Linked DNA regions of Homo sapiens: region 2 is linked to region 1. Evidence: fine-mapped expression QTL. A gene starts in region 1. The other region holds a variant in brackets. All regions are shown on one strand. Distances are between the middles of the regions. Region 1 holds the start of ST3GAL6 (ST3 beta-galactoside alpha-2,3-sialyltransferase 6). Region 2 has its middle 8.0 kb from the start of ST3GAL6-AS1.

Region 1 (2,500 bases):
GGCCCCTCCTTTTGCTACCAGACTAAACATTACTGAACATTTCTCCAACTTAAGCAATCCTGCAAGCTCCTTAAGCAATATCAATTCTAGTAATTGATGAAATGGAGGTAAAGCTTATAATACTTTTGATTCAAACTCAGCTGAAATAAAAGCCTGTTACTCCCAACCCTGTTCCCAGTTCTGCTCCTCCCAACCATGCTAGCATTGTTTATAAAAACAAACTCTACGGAGAAACACTTGAAAAAAATGTCAGGTTTTTTTTTAGACTCCCCTAATGCTTTCTCAAACCAAAGGGAGCTTGCTTTTCCAACCAGCTAGAAAAAAGCATGTTCAGCAATAATTCTAGAAACATTGTTCTACTTATCAAGCATTAGGTTAGTGCAAAAGTAATTGTGGTTTTTGTCATTTAAAACCAACCTAATAGAAAAACCCGGTGGGTATCTCAGTCAATATGCAACACCAAGGAAGAAAGACCCTTGGCGTTCTCTATTCCGGATGCTGAGCACACACAAACCTCACCTCCCTGTCTCCTCCATCCCCAGTTCTGTTTCAGTCTGGAAGCAGGTGCTTCCTAATGCCCATCTGCAAGCCCAGCCACCCCAGGCACTGGGACTGATTCTGACCCACAGAAAGAGAGTCTGAGGAGCCCTCGACTAGCAGCTTAACAGTTGGGTCAGGTTCCTGTGGATCCAGTAGTGATCCTGGTCATCTCATCCACTGGACCTGGGTTCCTGCTGCTGGGTGCTTAAACTATACCACACTTTTCCAACGTCTGCATTCTTCTCTTTCCTAGTCACCCTAGCAGCTCTGCAGCCAAACTTCCATTTTTTTTTTTTTTTTTTTAGTCACTAGGATCCTAAACCATGTCCCCATCTGCCCTGGGGTGAGGCACCCTTCTGTTCCCTGCTTCCTCAGTGGCAGACATACTACTCTTTCTACTACTAGGTCTCTTCTCAAACCCAACATGCTGCTGTTCAATAATACTCCTCAGTAACTCACATCTTTGTGCAAATAAGAGAAGCACATCCCCCTTCTACCTCCACACAGCCTGTGGGCACCTAATGTCTAATATCTCAGCAGCATCTAGATTTAAGCCACAACCTTCCCCTTAAGCAGGTAACCTTGTTCATGGCTCACCTCCATACCTTTACCAGGTGGCCCTGCTGACACCTGTGTCCATTCAGCCCCTGGACAGGCCGTCATCCATCCTAGTCTCTGCTGGTCTTCAGCTCACACTGACATACACTCCAGACTGTGTGGAACATGGCCAACAGATTTCACATCCTGCCTTCCTTCCTCTTTGTACTTATTACTCAATTTGTGATTATAATCTGCAGTCACATGCCTACATGAGCAAATCTACAACAGAACCTCCAACTCTAGCCATGCATTAATGTCTAGATTTTTTTTGGTCCAGCCTCATAGGTCCCCTAAGCCTAAGCCTCACAGACCCAGCCATCTCCATATGACCTGAGCCTTAATGTACAGGACTCCACAGTGATGAATGGAAAGGCCTCAGTCCTCCTCAATTCATTTACTACCTCTCTTTTAGGTTTGGTCCTTATTACTAATTAGGTAGTCCAAATGCGTGAGATCAGCTTCATTCATATCCCAAGGATCTACAACCTCTGGCAGCGATGATCATGTAAATGATAGCACAGTTTATTAACCACTTACTAAATGGCCAGCACAGTACTAAGCCCTTTTTCACATAAGGATGAAATCACGGATATTTTCATCCCCATGCTAGATATGTTTAATACCCAGAGCACTGGCCAGAATTCAAACTGAGATCTGATTTCAAAGCCCACACTTTGAAATTGTGGCTTATAGAAAACTATAATAACCATATTTTTAAGAGTATGAACTGTTAAATAATCATTTAATAATATCTTTTAAAAATAAAACAAGGGGATGATACACATTAAATTATGCATTTATCAAACACACTTCTTTAGAAACATTATAATATGAAAAGCTATTAATCTCATAATTAAAGAGAGAAATCCTAAGGAATCAGTAGTCTGGTTGATGGGATTTTCTGCTAGAAGGATGACGAAATTCTCAATAGACCATAATTAAAGAAATAAAAAACAGCACATATAGATTTTTTAAACATACAATATTACAACGAAAAGGCTAAATTTAATCTGAAGTTATAAACTAATGCTATTTAATACAAGTTAAGAAAAAAACTCTGACATTGCTGAGTAAATTAACAGAAAATCTGATTTATGCCCCCCTCCAAAAATATTGAGTTGTGTAGTGTCAACAAATTAGATCAGCTGTATACATTTTGACTGATTTCTAAGAATATAACTATTTTCTTTCTGCATTGCAGAAAGGGAACACGTATAATTAACTTTCTTTCCCTCTCCTCCCCCAACTCTTCTGCTAATACAATGATATGAAGCTGGTTCCGACATGCATATGCACAAACACCCTTCTCTTTCAGCTTTTCAACAAAGCCAGTGCTTTCACCAGTGCTTTCACTGTCCTT
Region 2 (2,500 bases), 23 kb after region 1:
CTCAAAAGTCACAAATGACACTTCACATTTCTATCCTTCACTCAAGTTATTAAAAGTGAGAGTGCTAAATATCAATTATATATTAACTTAACTAATGTTTTCATCATATTCTGGTGACAACAGCAATTGGAAGGAATGTATTACATGCCATATTGTAAGCCCCAAGTCCAAATTTAGAAGCAACATGTAGAATTTACCTGTTATAAATTGTTTATATAGACCTACCTCCCTAAGTGCCTTATAGAGAGATATAAATATATAAGCCATAGGCCTCTAAGTCTGATCCAGCTGGCTCCTACGGCCTGTCCTGCCTTATCTCCTGAAATGCTTGACTCTTGACTCATCTCCTGAAATGCTTGACTCTAGTAACACCAAACTTTGTGCACTTCTCAATCCTTCTTGGCAGTTTCATGTCTCAGCGCCTTTGGTCATACTGTTCCTGCTGCCCGGAATGTTCTCCCTCTCCTCTCACCCTGCCCCCCAATTCCCCTCCCACAACATTCCCACTCCCCAATATAAATTGGAATAATCTGTTAGGATTCTGTTCTTCAAGGAGGACTTCCCTTTCTATCTCTACCCTGCATCTGGATGATGACATAGGAGTCCAAGAAAGCATATGTAAAGCTGTTTCAAGATCAGAGATAACTACAGTGTTTCTATGTTTTGAACCATAAAAAAAAAAAATCTCAGATTTCAAGAACATTCGGAGAGAACGGTTTTTGCTCCTTAAGCCTAGTTTATTCTGAAAAATTCATAGCTCTATTCAACCTACAGATTTTCTCTCCCTAACTCCACTTGAAAGCATATGTACATACATGCATGCACACACACACACACACACACACACACACACACTGAATCCCTCTACTATATGCCCATGGATCCCTTTATAATAGCAGAGTACTTGGCATATGATAGATGCAAAGTATTTGTTGCTGTTCGCTGAAGAATGATGAAAGAAATATAATAACATAGGTAGATTAACATAGTCCAAAGGGAAGCCAGGTGCTAAGAGGAAACAGATCTGAGAAAAAATTAGAGGTATATAAGAACAATCAGAAAGGGTTTCTGGGGAAAGTCAATTTTTAACTAATTGAGGAAGAATAGAATTGTCATAATAGCTATAAAAACAGAGTTATAATAGTAATAGTGGCAGATAACACTGATTAAATATTTGATATTTGGCAGAAACTATGCTCAAATATTTGTATGTGTTTTTTTCATTATCACAATTACTGT[G/C]ATGTGGATATTATTTCAAATTTATAGATAAGGAAAGTAAGGCTCAGAGAAGTTAGGCTATTTGTTCGGAGTCATGCAGTGATAAGTTATGAAGCTGGAAACTGAACACGTTATAATCTGGCTTAGATGGGAGAGTGTGGAGGAGAAGGAGAATGGCACTGAGTGTCAAAGAACAGCCTGAGCTGAAGCACTAGGAGACCTGCGTGGCTACAGCGTCAAACAGGACAATAAAAAGAAAGTTAGCAACATAAGATGGCAGAAAACCTCAAAAATCAGTGAGAGAAATTCTCTGGATTTTTAAGCAGAAAAAAAATAATGAAAATCATTGATGGTCATAGAGAGCTTGAATATAAGATTTTTGTAAGAATATGATTTTTTATTCTATGACTAAAGCAGAAGAACCATACACATCAAATTTGTAAAAAAAAAAAAAAAAAAAAAAGTGTTTTGCAATAAGAGAGCCAGATTTGCCCTCCAAAAAATTCAGTGTGTGCAAAATATTTATAGTTACTTGGTGATCAGAAAACACACATATCTCCTTACATCCCGTTTATCAAAAAATCCAATTATTTATCATTTAATTGTAGCATATCTGGGATAAAAGAATAATAATTAGCTAAATCACTTCGACATCTACCTGAAATATTGGCTTTAAATATTAAAAATATTTTGACAGCAATGTCCTTTATCTCACAAGATCACTTACAACAGAAAGCTCCTTTAATTACCACAACCTATCAATTAAATAAGATTATAAATTACATTTAATTGCTGTTCTAAAATGTAGTTGAAAAATTCATTTGTACCCTATTTGAATGCCTGGATTATCTATCACCTCACTGCTCTCATCTAAATGCAACTGCTTAACCCATCTTACAGTTTTTAAATGCAATGAGTTATCCACAAAAAAGACAGAATTAAAAAAATAAAATCTACAATCTCCTTTTATTCTTTGGCCCTATGCTAACCATAGAAAATGTACACATTCCCTATATCTGCTTCCTCCACCCCTTAATACATTAAGGACTCTTACATATTAAAGTTGCATAAGATTTTAATAAAAGCATTTGAGACTTCCTTCTAGGTTTCCTGCCTAAATATTTGTAATGGAATATTTCCTAAGCTGAAAACCCCACTAAGAGGTCAGAAGCAACAGGCTGATACCTCTTAAGACTAAAATCTAATGGTATGGGAAAGGTGATTTCATAGAATCAGCTCAAAGACAAGAGGTCTGTGTTTATATGGCATTTTGCATGGGTTT

The links.
Region 2: its variant is fine-mapped to the expression of ST3GAL6 in stomach (GTEx, PIP above 0.99).

What each region holds. Positions count from the first base shown.
Region 1 is chr3:98,762,077-98,764,576 of GRCh38, reverse strand. ST3GAL6 (ST3 beta-galactoside alpha-2,3-sialyltransferase 6) reads right to left here and starts at 1,237. Exons shown (of 10, transcript NM_001323368.2): 1 at 1,138-1,237.
Region 2 is chr3:98,739,407-98,741,906 of GRCh38, reverse strand. It overlaps a transcript of ST3GAL6 not described here. Among named protein-coding and RNA genes, the nearest start is that of ST3GAL6-AS1, 8.0 kb to the right of the region's middle. The variant G/C (reference allele first, on the strand shown) is at 1,240.